2 separate regions of the Homo sapiens genome follow, and region 2 is linked to region 1. A link means that fine-mapping ties the variant in region 1 to the expression of a gene that starts in the linked region. Tissue or cell type: gastroesophageal junction. Region 1 holds a variant in brackets; the other region holds the start of a gene. All regions are shown on one strand. Distances are between the middles of the regions.

What was found. PIP is the estimated chance that this variant, and not a neighbour inherited with it, causes the effect.
Region 2: it holds the start of VAC14, and the variant in region 1 is fine-mapped to the expression of VAC14 in gastroesophageal junction (GTEx, PIP 0.99).

Annotation. Positions count from the first base shown.
Region 1 is chr16:70,657,197-70,665,454 of GRCh38, forward strand. IL34 (interleukin 34) reads left to right here. Exons shown (of 6, transcript NM_001393494.1): 5 at 2,422-2,557; 6 at 2,801-3,486. The coding sequence ends at 2,991. It overlaps MTSS2 (MTSS I-BAR domain containing 2), which reads right to left. Exons shown (of 15, transcript NM_138383.3): 13 at 7,724-7,900; 14 at 7,402-7,567; 15 at 4,008-7,253. The coding sequence ends at 6,481. Among named protein-coding and RNA genes, the nearest start is that of IL34, 15 kb to the left of the region's middle. The variant C/G (reference allele first, on the strand shown) is at 3,345.
Region 2 is chr16:70,796,924-70,804,923 of GRCh38, forward strand. It overlaps VAC14 (VAC14 component of PIKFYVE complex), which reads right to left and starts at 4,235. Exons shown (of 19, transcript NM_018052.5): 1 at 3,874-4,235. The coding sequence starts at 3,977. HYDIN (HYDIN axonemal central pair apparatus protein) reads right to left here. Exons shown (of 86, transcript NM_001270974.2): 86 at 5,161-8,000. RefSeq lists enhancers at 3,921-4,543, 4,211-4,270 and a silencer at 3,941-4,130.

The DNA.
Region 1 (8,258 bases):
AAGGCTAGTGAGGGAAAGGGTGAATACACGGAAAGATGGGCACAAGCAGAGGGACGTGGGAGAAGTGGGGGAGGGGTGCAGGAAAAGAGGCCTGTGGAAGGAAGAGGCAGCCGTGGTGGTCATGAGAGCCGGGCTCGGGGTGCAGGCGATGCCTCTGAGACTCTGTTCTAGGCTCTGCCTCTCTCCCTCTGGATCCTGGGCAAGTCATCGTACCCTCTTTGTTTCTGCAACACGAGGGTCCTGGAGGTGGGGTAGGGGGAGAGGGGAAGAATGGATGGAGCACAGGGAATGTTTAGGGCAGTAAAACATGCTGCAGGCCGGGCGCGGCGGCTCATGCCTGTAATCCCAGCACTTTGGGAGGCCGAGGTCAGGAGTTTGAGACCAGCCTGGCCAAATGGTGAAACCCCGTCTCTACTAAAAATACAAAAATAAGCCAGTCCTGGTGGTGGGCACCTGTTATCCCAGCTACTCAGGAGGCTGAGGCAGGAGAATCGCTTGAACCTGGGAGGCAGAGGTTGCAGTGAGCTGAGATTGCACCATTGCACTCCAGCTTGGGCAACAAGAACGAAAAACTCCATCTCAAAACAAAAAACAAAAAACTATGCTGTATAATGCATTCATGTTGTATACATGACATCATGCATTTGTCACAACCCACAGAACTGTACAACAGAGAGTGTGAGCCCTAATGTAAATTATGGACTTTAGTTAATTAAAAAAAGAGGTCCCCCATCCCTGACCCGCTCAGAGAAATTGATCTGAGGCCTCAGGGATATTATCCTCTAAAATGCCTGAGTTGTAGTAAAAAAGGAAGGTGGCGAGATGACCCATGCAGGCCGTGTGTGCGGTGGGACCTCTCCCCGTCTCCACCAGACCTCCTCAGGACTCTGGTGCACACCTGTCCCTGGGATCCACCTGCTGCCCTGCCCAGCCAGCTGCTGACAAGGCCCAGCTTGTCGGGAGAACATCCCAGGCCAACTGTGAGCTTCCGACGGTGAAAGGGCTTAGGGACTAGCACCTGTTTTGCAGCTGCCTGGAGCTTTCCTGGAACCAGACTGGTGGGGAGGCTGTCAATTCCTACAAAGTCAGGAGACTCCTTGATCTGCTTGGTGGCTCTTTTTCCTGTTTATTTCATTTTATTTCTTTTTTATTGTTTTAGAGATGGGGGTCTCGCTATGTTGCCCAGGCTGGTCTTGAACCCCTGGCCTCAAGTGATCTTTCTGCCTCAGCCTCCCAAAGTCCTGGGATTACAGGACTGGGATTACATCCTGCCTGGCCTCTGTGGTGGCTTTTTTTGTTTTTTTGAGGCGGAGTCTCACTGTGTCGCCCAGGTGCATTGCAGTGGGGCAATCTTGGCTCACTGCAACCTCCGTCTCCCAGGTTCAAGCAATTCTCCTGCCTCAGCCTCCCAAGTAGCTGGGATTATAGATGCCTGCCACCACACCTGTATTTTTAGTAGAGACGGGGTTCTGCCATGTTGGTTAGGCTGGTCTTGAACTCCTGGCCTCAAGTGATATGCCTCCCTCAGCCTCCCAAAGTGCTGGGATTACAGGTTGAACCACCATTCCTGGCCGTCTCAGTCTTTTCATGGCCTTCTGCCCTGTTTCCATGTCTGTCACCTTTCTCTTACAAGGACATCAGGCATTGGATTTAGGGCCTACCTGAAATCCAGGATGATGTCCTTCTAAGATCCTGAACTTAATTACCTCTGCAAAGAACCTATTTCCAAATAGGGTCACATTCACGGGTACCAAGGGGTAGGACCAAGACAGCTTTTTGGGGGAGGAGAGGGACAATTTGGCCCAGGACATGTTGCCTTGTTGTCACCCCCTTCCAGAAGATCACCCCCCACGTTTCCCATGATGCTTTCTACAGTGGCCCTGACCTCCTGTTCAGGGACTTGATTCCCTTGGTGCCACGGTGCACCCCACATGACCCTGTTGTTGCATATCGTGGAGAGAAAGCACCCCAGCTTGAAGCTGGACACCCTGCCCTGTGTATGTGACTTAAGCCTCAGTGTCTCTGTGAGGACCTTCTCTTGTTCCTTGGAGTTGATGGAGATGTCTGCTTCTTGAGGGACAGTTTTCCCCAGGTCAGGGGGTCCTCACGCAGTGGTGGGTGGCCGTGCCTGGGTGCAGTTTGCCCCACTTTCCTCACTGTCCTGGTCTACGCCCTTTACTCATTTTTCAAGGATGGAAAAGCGAAGCCTCTGAGTTGTACATGGGTGAGTGGTGGCATCTGGGACCCTCCCCATGCCCACAGGAAGAAGATGGTGAGAAATAGCTATCCAGGCTCATGGTCACAGGAAGTCTGGTCCTTCTTCCGGGGTTTGGGCAGCTCCAGGTGACTGGACAGCCCTCACGGCTCTCCTGGGGTGCGGCCCCATCTCGCCACCGCTCCTGACTGTTTCCTCCTTTCCAGGATGTGGAGGTCAGCCCCAAGGTGGAATCCGTGTTGTCCCTCTTGAATGCCCCAGGGCCAAACCTGAAGCTGGTGCGGCCCAAAGCCCTGCTGGACAACTGCTTCCGGGTCATGGAGCTGCTGTACTGCTCCTGCTGTAAGGAGCTCTCAGGGGATGGCGCCTGGGGGTGGGAGGCCAGGCATCTGGGCCCACCCAGGCCAGCTGGCAGAGCTGGCGTCCTCCCGGGCATATCCTCTGCTCCCCGGGGCTACAAGCCATTTCTGGAAGCCAGGATGGGCCCTGGGTAGAGTGGGGGACAAGCACATGCGGCTTGGCTTAGTGGGGAGGGTGGTCTTGAACACTGCTGCAGTCTTTTTTTTTTTCCCCTATCTCTTGCAGGTAAACAAAGCTCCGTCCTAAACTGGCAGGACTGTGAGGTGCCAAGTCCTCAGTCTTGCAGCCCAGAGCCCTCATTGCAGTATGCGGCCACCCAGCTGTACCCTCCGCCCCCGTGGTCCCCCAGCTCCCCGCCTCACTCCACGGGCTCGGTGAGGCCGGTCAGGGCACAGGGCGAGGGCCTCTTGCCCTGAGCACCCTGGATGGTGACTGCGGATAGGGGCAGCCAGACCAGCTCCCACAGGAGTTCAACTGGGTCTGAGACTTCAAGGGGTGGTGGTGGGAGCCCCCCTTGGGAGAGGACCCCTGGGAAGGGTGTTTTTCCTTTGAGGGGGATTCTGTGCCACAGCAGGGCTCAGCTTCCTGCCTTCCATAGCTGTCATGGCCTCACCTGGAGCGGAGGGGACCTGGGGACCTGAAGGTGGATGGGGACACAGCTCCTGGCTTCTCCTGGTGCTGCCCTCACTGTCCCCCCGCCTAAAGGGGGTACTGAGCCTCCTGTGGCCCGCAGCAGTGAGGGCACAGCTGTGGGTTGCAGGGGAGACAG[C/G]CAGCACGGCGTGGCCATTCTATGACCCCCCAGCCTGGCAGACTGGGGAGCTGGGGGCAGAGGGCGGTGCCAAGTGCCACATCTTGCCATAGTGGATGCTCTTCCAGTTTCTTTTTTCTATTAAACACCCCACTTCCTTTGGTTTGCTTTGCTTTGCATCTTCAGGGGTGAACCTGGCGGGGATGGGAGGTGGCCAAGTGCAGGAAGTGGAGGGGGGCAGGGCTGAGGATGCGGATTTGGAGTGGATGGAGCCTGCCCAAGGGATGTGGAATGAGAGGGATGCCAGGGATGGAGTTCCGGCCCAGCCCAGCCCAGCCCAGCCCAGCCCAGCCCAGCCCAGCCCAGCCCAGGGGCCTCTGCAAGCCTGGGTTGGGGGAGGCGGTGTTGGGCTGATACCTTGGCTTTGACCCTTGCCATCCTCCCTCCCTCCCTCCCTCTCTCCCTCCCTCCCTCTCTCCCTCCCTCCCTCCATCTGGCTGCCCCCAGGCAGCCCCTAGCAGGGACACATATGGGACATTTCAGAGACCCAGGTCTGGCCCTGGCACCTACATTGAGATCTGAGATCCTCTGGGAACCCCCAGCCTGTCCCCCTGCAGCTGGGATCTGGGGTGGGAAAGGTGAGGTGTGGGGATGGGGTAGGAAGCAGCCAGGCAGAGGCAGGGGTGTTAATTACAGTACACCTTTATTAATACTGGAATCTTCACAGTGCATCTGTTACTTGTAGCAGTGACTATATTTAAATCGGGGAGGATGGTGTGGAGGGGGCGGGGAGGAGAGGAGAATTTTTCCAAAATCTGACGGAAAGAAAAGAAACAAATGGTTCAGATGGGACGGAGGGTGGGGGAGGGGGGGAGGGTGAGTAGGAACCAGGAGGGCTGCCTGGGGTGGGGGAATAAATTAAAAAAAGGAACGAGTTAACAACAGCACCAGGAAAGTTACTTCAGTCAAAAGACGCTTTTGAAAAGAATATTTCTCCGTACAAAATGAGAAATTAAACGAACGTAAAGTCCCCCAAACCAAAGTTTGTGATGTGGGATGGTTGGCTCGGATCCCGAGGTGGGTGGGCCTATGAGGTGGTTGCTAAGTCGACGCAAGGGCGGCGGGGGTGGTCTCAGGGATGGACAAGGGGATGGAGTAGAGTATGTACAGCCCCCGGGGCTCACAGGGGAGGGGGACGGCGGAGTCGGTGGGGGCTGTGCCACACGAGCCCCCCTCTCTGGGTAGCCCCTGCCTCCTTTCCCATCAGGACCTCTGACGCCCAGGTCTGCCCACCCACTGCCCCTCACTCTATTCCCACCACATCCTGAATCCTGCTCCACCGCCCTGCCTCGGAAGACCCCTGCAGCCCTGGGGAGAATGTGTGGCGGAAATTCTACCCAAGACTCCCCAAATAATTGGTCACCTGCTCTCCTGGCCCCTAAAACCGGGGCTCTGGTGTTGGCCTGAGCTCCACGGGCTGAGTGCTCGGCCAGGCAGTTGTTGAACCTAGTGACTTACTTACAGGGACCATTCTTCATCAGCTCCCTCTGATGGGACTCTGTCCACATCAGGGCCTGCTTGGTGCCCGGACCTACCCAGGAGCTGCCCAGCTCACCGCACAAGAACTCCCAGGAGCTCAAGCCTGGGAGGCTCAGACCCAGCTCCATTCTATCAATCAATCAATCAATCATCAAGACCAAGGTGCTCCTGACCCCCAGGTAGGACCCTGCCCTGGGGCCACGATGCCCTCTGAGCCCTGCTTTCCCTCCTGACCTGCGGGGCCACCAGGACTCCCTCCGCTCGCCCTAGGCTCACGTGCTTTTACCTGCTGAGACTTGGCGTGACTTGGTGCGTGGGGTGGGGGCAGCCTTGCCCCTCCCCTTGCCCCCGCTGCCACCACGAGCCTGGACTACAGTGGGGGCCGTGCTGGGATGGCATCTCCTCCGGCAACAGAGAGTCAAAGCCAATCTTCCCAGACTCGCTCCCCCACCTGGGCTTGCAGCCAGCTCAGACCACAGCAGACAGGCCGGGAGCCTCCCAACCTTATTTTGGCTACGCTCGAGACACTGGAGAGAACAGTAGCTTCCACCGGGCTCTGGGGGAGCCAAGTCCCTCCCTTCTCATCCTGCCATAGGACCACCGGGGGGTCCCTGTCCCCCAGGCACTCCCAGACACACACCCTGTATCGTCCCCTCTCCCCCACACTTAGTCCTCGTCCACAGTCAGCTCCATTTTATTATATTCATAAAATGACCCCACACCTCCTACTGCTCCAGTCACCCCCCGAAAGGTGGCTAAAACTGTGACCCCCAAAGTTAAAAGATTGATGTACCCAATGAGAAGTGGACATCTGAAAACGGTGCCTGTGTGGCTGGCCGGTGACCCCAGGGCCTCCGGCCTCCTAACCCTGCTGCCCTAGTTTCCAAAGAGCTGCTCTGGCCCCCTCCAGCCAGCCTCACGGGGTGGGGGAGGCGAGGGGTGGGAGCCACCACAGGGCCCCCAAGACCCCCCCCCCCAAGCAGCCCCTGGTTTCCTCCCTGAGACTTGGCGTGGGCCCTGGAACTCCCTTCCCACACGGGGGGCCTGGCCGCCCAACTCCAACCTGCCGCCCTGGCCCCCAGCCCCCAGCAGACATCCAGCCCAGCGTGCACCTGGCCCCTCCACAGCCGCCCCGCCTCCTGGAGGGAGAGGGGCCTGGGAGAGGCAGAGAGAAGGCAAGAGGGGAGGAGGGGGCTCAGGCAGGGGAGAGGGGGGCCAGCATTCCAGGAGGAGCTGAGGCAGGACCAGCCCTGGGAGAGGCCGGGATGGTGAAAGGGAGGCCAGCCTGGCCCCTCTGTCATGGGCAGCGGCCCTGGCTCTGGTGCTTATGGGTAGGGAAGAGGCAGGGCCCCAGAGGAGGAAGAGGAGGGACCGAAGAGCATAAAACAGACCCCGAACCAGGCCCAGGCCTGCAGGCTCCGTCCTGGCCAGGCTTGCTAAGAAGTCACTTCCTGTTTAAATGCTGGAATCCAAGTGAGGTGTCTTTCCATAAAGTGGCATGGCCTCTGCCCTGGCTCTGTCCTCTCTCCTGGCTGGGCCTTTGCTCTGAGTGCCTGCGGCTCACAGACCAGGCCACCTGCTCGCACTGGGGCCTGAGAGGATGGGGAGGGTGGCGCCATCATAAGATGCGGGGCGCCGACCTGTCGTTGGTGACGGTCCTGCGGAGCCGGACCCCACGCCGGATGGCCACCAGCATGTCTTCGGCCGGGGGGTCGCTGGTGGCGGCTGGGGGTGGGGTGGGCGTCTCCTCCGTGGGGGTGGCCGACAGAGCAGTGGGGAAGGGGAACTGGCCCTCACCCAGTGCGTGGGCACCCGCCACCAGCTCCCCCAGCTTCTCCACCAGGCTGTGCCGGTTGGCCGCCAGCTGCTGCTGCTCGTCCTCGGCCCCTGCCCCGGGGTACCCGGCTGCCTCTGGGGATGGGCTGCCCCAGGCTGTGTTGGGCAGGCTGAGCCTCTTTGGGGAGGCCTTGGCGAGGTCCGGTGCCAGGGGTGAGGCGGTCTCGTCGGTATAGAAGACGCACTCCTCACTGCCCGCCCGTGTGGGCCCCATGTAGCCGGGGGAGTCAGGCACCGTGGGCGTCTTCACAGGGACGATGGGCGGCCGGATGGGGATGGGGCCAGCGCTGGACAGGGCGCGGCGCACGGTGGGCTTGGTGGAGGGTGTGCGGCGGATGGTGGCCACGCCGGGGGGTGCGCCCGAGGGCAGGCCAGTGGCCGTGGGCAGCCCCGCGGTGGGCAGCCCAGCAGTGGAGGCTGGGCGCTTGGTCTGGATCAGGCGGCGGTAGTTCTGGGCGATGTTGCTGTTGCGCGGGATGGTGGATGACTTGTCAAACTCGGGCGGGCCCTCGCTGTCCGCATCCCCATTCACGGAGTAGCAGTCGTAGTCGGAGCCTGGGGGCACGGGACACAGTGAGGCCCAGGGCCCAGGTGGCCCCTTGCCCCCAGCCCACCAGGGTGAGCACAGAGGGGGAAGGACGGGGCCCTCCTGGATGGCTAAGTCCCAGCTGTCCCTGGTCCCACCCCAGCCCCGCGGGCCTGCCTTGGGAGGGGATGGTGTCCTCAGAGCAGGAGGGCGTGGTGGTCTGCGTGCTGTAGCCGCTGGAGTACTGCAGCGAGTCCCGGCTGCTCTTCTGGTGCTCCAGGCTCAGGCCCCGCGTCAGCACCATGGCCAGGTCACTGGCGGCGGGGGACACCTCCTCACCGTGCTGAGGGTGGGAAAGTGCAGGCTGAAGCCTTGCGCCCCCAATCCCCTCTGCCCAAATTCCAGGCAGCCCTGCCAGGTGGTTGGAGCCGGCCCTGAGGCCACTGGCTGGGCCTCCTGGGACTGACCTGGGCGTGAAGGGGGGCCCTGGCCAGCCTACCTTGGCTGCGATGGTGGCAGGGGACATCCGGGGTCGCGGTGCCTCTTCCCCGCTGGGGCCCAGGGTGCCCCCACTGGCAGGGCCTGGCTCTGTGTCTCGCAGGAGCTCCACTCGGTCCTTCCTCCGCTGCAGAGTGGCGCCTGAGGGCTGCTCATGGGAGCCGACCTTGGACCAGTCCTGCAGGGAGGGTGTGGCAGGTCAGGGGGACCACTGGCCCTACCACCTATGGCCCGGGGGCCCGTCACTGTGGCTGAGGCTCAGGGTGTCCAGGGCTATCAGGGGGTCTCTGGTTCGCAATCACAGCCAAGGGCAGAGCATGGAGTGTGACTGTGGCCCCTCAGTCCCACCAGGCCCAGGGGTAAGATGTGGCTGTGTGGGCAGTGACTGTAGGAAATGGCCAGGTGGCTTGTCTCTTGGGGACAGGTGCTGTGTGCACGCACCCCTGGCTGAACCCAGGCCCTTTGTGCAGTAATGGCACCAGGTGGGGAGGGCATGGATGGGAGGGGCAGCTGGTGACTGTCCTGGGGCCGGGCTG
Region 2 (8,000 bases), 140 kb after region 1:
TGTCCTCATAAAAGGAGACACCAGGCTGGGGCAGTGGCTCTTGCCTGTAATCCCAGCACTTTGGGAGGCTGCAGTGGGAGGATTGTTTCAGCCTAGGAGTTCAAGACCAGCCTGGGCAACATAGTGAGACCCCCATCTCTATAAAATAAATTAAAAAATTAAAAAAATTCAAGAACAACGCATTTGTTACTATGGGTCTTACTGAGCTAAAATCAAGATGTTGGCAGGCTATGTTATTTTGTGATGCTCTAGGGGAAAATCCATTTTCTTGCCAGCTTCTAGAGGCTGCCAGCATTCCTTGGCTGGTGGTTCCCTTCCATCTTCAAAGCCAGTGATGATCCGGGTAAGTTTTCTTACATCACATCACTCTGACACTGACTCTTCTGGTTAGGGTTACATTGGGCCCACCTCGATAATACAGGATAATCTCTCTATTTTTAAGGTTAGTGATTAGCAACCTTAATTCCCCCTTGCTGTGTAACATAACATATTCACAGGCTCCAGGGATTAGCATGGGGCAAATATAGGAGGCTATCATTCTCCCTACCAAAAAGTGGTAACAGCAGTACTGACAGATGACAACTATGTGATATACGTATGTTAGAAATAATTAGGGCAATTACATAACAATTCTCTCTCTATGTATACAGTTTGTAACAATTACAATGTGCCCACTACTACACTAAATACTTGATATGGTTTGGATCTGTGTCCCCACCAAATCTCTTGTTCAACTGTAGTTCCCAGTGTTGGAGATGGGGCCTGGTGGAGGTGGCTGGATCATGGGGGTGGATTTCTCCCATGATGATGAATGGCCTAGCACCATCTTCTTGGTGCTGTTCTTGTGATAGTGAGTTCTCAAGAGATCTGGTTGTTTGAAAGTGTGCAGCACCTCCCTGCTCACTCTCTTTTGCTCCTGCTCCCGCCATGTGGGACGCCTTGCTCCCTCTTTGCCCTCCATCATGATTGGAAGCATCCTGAGGCCCCGCCAGAAGCAGAAGCCGCTATGCTTTCTGTACAGCTTGCAGAACCGTGAGCCAAATAAATCTCTTTTCTTTATAAATTACCCAGTCTCAGGTATTTGTTTATAGCAGAGCAAGAACAGACTAACACAGCACTTTACAACATTAGCTCAAACAACTCTATGCATATTATTATTATGCTCTTTTTACAGATGAAGAAATTGAGGCACAGAGGTTAATTAGCTTGCTCAGGGTCACCTAGCCAGTAAATGGGAGCTTGAACCCCAGTTCCAGAGCCTGCTCTTAAACACCATGCCACGCAGCCTCTCAGGAAATAGGGTATCTTAAAGGGGCAACTTACCTAAGAACAGGACTAAGCACTTTCATTTAGGGAGCACATGAACTGACTCATTTACACTACATAGATAACTGCCAATATTCGGACTCTTCTTTTGTTGGGCATCTGCAGTCTGATTAATGAGAGATTAATTAATAGTCTGTGTTTGCTGAGGGTCACTTTGACCAGGCCAAATGAAGAATATATTAAAACATACAATATCCTATGTGTACCTGACACATAGAAAGTGCTCAGACAAGCAAAATGCTGGTGCTGGTGAAGCACAGATAAGTAAGTCAGTATCTATCTCTAAGCAATTTGTGAAGCATATGTTCTGAGGAAGGCATTGAACTAACCAGCCATTCTTCATTCTAAGCATGACTGGAGAAGGTTGGAAACAGATGAGAGGGTCTTTGAGGCCAGTGCTTCTCAAACTTTAATGTGCACACAAATCACCCAGGGATCTTGTTAAAATGCAGATTCTGATTCCATAGGTCTGGAGCAAAGCTGCAGAGCCTCTAACAAGCTCCCAGGTGATCCTGATGCTGCTGTCTGTAGGCCACGCTTTTGGGCAGCAAGGTCCTGAGCCTGCAATGTTATTTCCCCACCGAAAATGTACGGTCATTCATTTATTCGGACACCAGCTGTCAAGTGCTGCCAGGCTAAGTGCTAAGGATAAATAAAACAGATACATAAACAGAACTCTCTGCTCTTAAGGAGTTCACAGTCAAGGCACTGCTGAGTTTCTCTAAATTCCACAAATCAAGGGCAATGTCCAATACAAAATGAACTCGATCAAAGACAAAACCCTTACAGAACTGTGTGCAGAGTGAGAACAGATACACAGGTTGCGCTGGAAGCAACAATAATGTTGAGATGAATACCTCTCTCTTCAAGGACTCAACAGACGACTCAAGCTACAATAAAACCGGATATTCCTGAGAAGCAGAGTGGGTGAGGGACAAAACTAGGTGTCAAGGCAACTTCAAAGCCAACAAAACCCCATGGACACGGAACCATGCCTATATATCATTTCTGGGTCCCTCTATTCAGTATGGCAATGTGCAATAAGACTTGCTAGCATTCGTGAGAGTCAGGCATAAACAAAAAGCTATATAAAAGGAGCAGTCAAGAAAGTGGTGTCTGATGAGAGAAGCAGCTAGATGGTTGTGGACATACTGAGTATGAGAGCTGAATGGAGGCAGGGTGGGGGATTTCTTATCAAGGTCCGAACCCTTTAGTTTAGGAGGAAACTAAAATCCAAAGCAACATTTGATTTGGATTGCAAGCAGCAGTTGTCAACCGGGGCAATTTTGCTCCTTCAGGGGACATTTAGCAATGTCTGAAGACATTTTTGATTGTTACAACGGATGGAGTGCTACTGGCATCCAGTGGGAAGAGGTCAGAGACGCTGTTAAAAATCCTGCAAGGCACAGGACAGCCCACTACAACCAAAAATCATCTGCCCCAAAATGTGAATGGTGCAGAGGCTGAGAAACCCTGAGTTAAGGAATTTGCCCCAGGTTAACGAATGAATGTCACACCACGGAATAGATTAGAGCAGTCCAATAGAGCATTCTGCAATGATGGAAACAGTCTATAATCTGTGCTGCCCTATATAGCAGCCAATAGCTACATGTGGCTATTGAACACTTGAAATACGGGTAGTGTGACTGAGAAACTAAAGTTTAATCTTTAATAATTTAAATTTATAATAGCTACGCACGGCCAACGGCTACTCTACTGGACAGAACAGAAATACAATTCACCTTTTCTGACTCGCAGACTGGTATTCTTCCAGTTTCACAGCCTGCTTCTTTCCAATTTTCTGAAATCACTCACTCACTTGACTTTAACACTAAAATGTGACTGGGAAAAAACCCACAAAAGTAAAATAATACTGCAGAAAAAAAAATAAATAAAACATCCCCAGTTAAACTTTCGCTGTTTTGTACATTGGGAAATAAAGTAAAATATCAGATCATTGTTACACATACATGTAACAAGACTGCAGAAGCAAGAAAGGTCAAATTATTTCTACTTCCACTTGCAGGGAAGGGTGTTATAACACAGATAAAACAAAAAACTCTCTGAGCCTTGAGATCACGAGTTTTCCGACCTGATTTCTCTACTTGGTCACTAACAATCTCCTTCACTTCTCAGAAGCTGGGTAAGAAACCAGGCTGGTCAGCATCACCTGCAAATTCTCCGGCTTCTGACTTCTCTCTCACCACAGAGACAACTCTCTGATTTGCTGGTTTGGGTGGCACCGCACCGAAGACTCACCATGTGCCATGCACTGTGCAAAGCACTACCCATACATGATGTCACTTCATTCTCACTGCAGCCCTTTGTGGCACCGGGAGGTTAAAAAGCTGGGACCAAATCACACAGCCAGTCAGGAGTAAAGCAGGGACTCCCAGATATGGCTCCCAATCTGCTCTTAAACACTGCGCTAAGGTAAGGGCCTAAAACCTGGGAAAGTAACCCTGGCTGGGAAGGCGTGAGAAGTCCCCCTGGGGAGCAGAGCAGTCAGGGGCTGCATAGCCAGGGAGGGGTCCTGGCGGCTCTTACTTCTCGATCTCCAGCGCTGCCACCTTCCGCTTTTCGTACAGCTTGTCATTGAGGGCGCGCACGATGTTAGGCGTGAGCGGCGCGAAATCCTTCTCGGGGTTCATGGTGGCAGCTGGGGGAACCTCGCGACTCCTTAGCCCGCGGCTGCCGGGGCCGCGCCGGGGCCAGGGGAGTCTGCGGCTCCGCTCTGCCCCCGGCGCCGGCGCATGGACCACGCCGCTCTAGGCTTGCCTGCCACGCTCCGCCGCCTCGCCCTGGAACCCGGGCCCGGACCCCGCTCCAGCACACCTGACCCTGGCCGCTTAACAACTCCCGCCCGGCACTAGCGGGACTCACGAGACAGCGGCCATGTTACTCGAGTCACATGACTCTACAGCACTTCCGCCTTCCGTCGCGAGGGCCCGCCCCTCTCCAGCCACGCCCCCACCGCAGGCCGCAGGTGGATTGGCCACGCCCTCGGAAGGCTCCACCCACACTGCACACACTATCGCGCTGCGCGCCAGGTAGCTGGAGTGTGGTTTGAGACGTGCTTTAATGGGTGTGTAGCTCACGCCCAACTGATGGCACGTGGTGGGCTTCTGTAGACGTTCGTAAGACCGAATGGGTTCTTGGAGTCTGATTCACTTAACATAATTTATTCAATAGTCACCGAATTCACTAGTTCATTCAGTAGTTGGTCACTTACCAATTTCCTAGATGCAGACGTTTCCCTAACTGCAGTAACACTGTCATCACTTTCACCATATTCTAGCCACTTGTATTATCTATTTAATGTTTTCCTCAAATCAACTCACTTTAAAAAATACCTTAAATCTCTTTTAGCTTTGCTTATGCCCTAAAACCATGAGTTTGAATAGGTATATTTTTTCTAAGACACATCAAAATAAATTCTCAATTAAAAATGGCACTACCTGTCTACCACCTAAGATCTCAGGTACCACCAGTGTCTGTCACTCCACCATTTGGGGGTGTGTTTAACATGCTCTGATGCCTAGGAGGGCTGGTTACAGACAGAGAGAAAGGCCCCAGATCTGCTGAGTGCGGGTCTCTAGATAGGTCCCCTGGAAAGCAGCCCCTTCAGCTGCTTCGGGAATCACATTACATGGTGAGACAGAAATCCCAACTATGTGGCAAAATATTTAAAAGCAATTTATGGCCGGAGTGTGGTAAACATGCAGTTAACAGGGAGGTGCATCAGCCTTTCCTATCATAAGCTTTCAGAGTGAACAGGGACTTAGGACAAGGGCTAGATTACAGTGGAGCTCAAAGAATAACAGTTTCAGAATGCATGGTGATACTTTTCTTTAATGAATGAAAAGTGCATATATAGGCCTTATAACAGTCTTGAAAATGGAGTATTTTCCTCAACAGAAACAGGGACGCAATGAGTAAAGGGCAAAAGTAGGCAGAATTCTAGGATGACCTCCAATATTCCCACCCCTTCGTGTTCATGCCCTGTATTATGCCCTCTTTCAGCGTGAACAAGACTTGTAAATATGATGGGCTATGCATCACTCACATGATTATATTATGTAATATCGCAGAAGAGATTTTGCAGATGTAATTAAGGTCCCTAATCAGCAGACATTGAATTAATAAAAAGAGAGATTAACTTGAGTCGGCCTGACCGAATCAAGTGAGTACTTAAAAGAGATTAGAAGAAATTTGAACTGGAAGAGAGACTCTCCTGTAAGGAGTTTAGTCATATGGCCACAAAGGAATGAATTTTGCCAACACATTGAGGGTCCTTGGAAGCAGATCTTTCCCTAGTTGAGCCTCCTGATGAGGATGCAGCTGGCCAGCACCTTGATTTCAGCCTTGTGGAACCCTGAGCTGAGAATCCAGTTCACACTGGGCTCTCAACCCATGGAAACTGTGAGATAATAAATTTGTGTTGTTTTGCTCTCCTAGTTTTGTGGTAATTTGTTATGCAGCCATAGAAAATGAATACAAAGGCTAATCCAAAACTCGGCAAGTCATGGATATATCATGTCTAGAAAAATCCATAAAAAATGTATTCTCCTATACAGGTGGGGTTTTCATAGTTGTTAAAACCTTTGCTGACACAATCCTATGAATGAAGGTAGGTGCGCTAACAAGTAGTAGTAGTGCTGCCAAGGACATCTCCAAATGTCTTGCAAAGTTTGGTTTTAGGATTTTGATGATGGTTGATGAAAAACACTGAAAAAATGTAAATCAATGGGAATGATTTGGTTCTATTTCTCCAATGTGTGTGCATTTCCACGGGACGCATATCTAATATATTTCATGTTTCTTTTGCTTTTTGGTTTGGCTTTTTCTTAGAGGTGAACTGAATTTCCCAAGGGTAATGATACAGTTTTTAATAATTCAAACAATAAGGAATTTTTTTTTTACCAGAAGTATTCTTTTCTCCTGAAATTATATTCTGGCTCAGGTTGCTAAGTAACCAGTTTTTTATTCAAGGCCCAGACCAATGCCTACCTTTAGGTCAGAAGTTCCTAGAAAGAAGTGGTTCTTTTCTCTAATATCTTGAAAAATGCCAACTAGGTAAGATTATTTATGCATAATTGAGCTAGCAGTGGTGGTAAAAATAAAGCCCAAAGGCTACCCTTGCCTTCCACCCTTGTTCCTCTTCTCTGACCTGTGACCATTCCTGTTGAAACTCTTCTAGACTAGGGGATAACTGATGTGCCTGACTGCATACTAGTCATTATTTCACAGTTACAATTCATCTGCATCTGTGTGATGCTTGGTTGTTATGCTAGAACTTGTAATAGTTCTGTAACAACTATTCATAATAGCTATTACAAGTATGTAAAAGTTATGACATAACTTGTAGCAAGAGGCTGCTGATGACATTGTAAGAAATTGTACCAAAATCTTGAACTGTGCAAAGCAGTTTCTCCAACAGCAATGTAATTGTAGCTGGAGTTTCAGGGCAACAGGGTTTAAGGTATTAGGTAGAGGTCTTGAAATGTAGCAGGCCCTCACCAATGTTACAGTATTGTCACCTCTGACTTGAGGCTCCTAAAGAAGTGGTTAGACTTAGCATGCCACACTCACTGGGGGCCCAGTGTGGAACGAGGCCAGGGAGCCCCATTCCCATGGTATTCTGTGCACAGTGCTCCTTGGAGTTCTGCCACACAGCTACCCTGACATTTTCTGAACATCCCCCAGTTAGAAGTCTCCTGGTCTGCTTTGCTGAGAATGGATTCTCCAATGTAACTTCCACAAGCATGTGTTGGAAGGGTTATTTTCATCAAGCCTGCTGTTAAGCTACTTTGCCATTCCAAATTTGCTAATATAAGACTATTTTGTTATTGTTTGAGGCTAAGGAAGCACGAGAAAAACCTAAAGGGAAGAAATGCACCCAATCTCAAACCAGCCTGGAAGAGGGTTCACACTGGGGCAGGATCTGAGCTTGGCTCTTGGTCCCAGGGAGAAGGAACTTCCTCCTCTCTCAGGGGCTAGGAGGATTTGGACCCTAGACTCAGTGGTGTTATAGGACCAACACGTTTGTGTGCCCACTGTGCAGTAACAGACCAATGCACAGAGACAGTGGGGATGCAGCAGAGAAAGTGATGATCAAAGGTCACTGAGTGATGAGATGGGAGGAGACCCTCAAATCCATCTCCCGGAAGAGTTCTGGACTGGGGTTTTTAAGGGGATCCTGGAGGGTGAAGGGCTGAAAAACCAGGTGACTGATTGGTTGGGTAAGACGGATGAAATCATCAGGATGTGGAAACCGCATTCTTTGGTGAATCAGCTTCTCGTGAGGTCCTTCAGATCAGCTGATGTCAGTTGTTTCACTGGTACACAGGACCAAGAATAAATATCTCAAACGGAAAACTTAACGTTTCCTAATGTTCAAGTTGTTATCTCCAGAGCATTGAGGGGAACTATGATCTTTAGCAGGGTCTACGTGATTCTGAAACAGCAGGCACCAAACAGCTATGAGGAAGCAGGTCTGAGCGCAGGCTGATCTAGTGATTAATGCTGAGTGTGCTGCAACCTGGGTTCGTTTTTGTTTCTCCCCCTCCCTTCTCCCTGATCACTTTTATAAAATGTATATGGACAGCTTCAGTGGCTTGGGGAAGCACTGGAACAGGTCTGAAGTTGGGGGAGTTGCCCCTAGCCACCCCAAG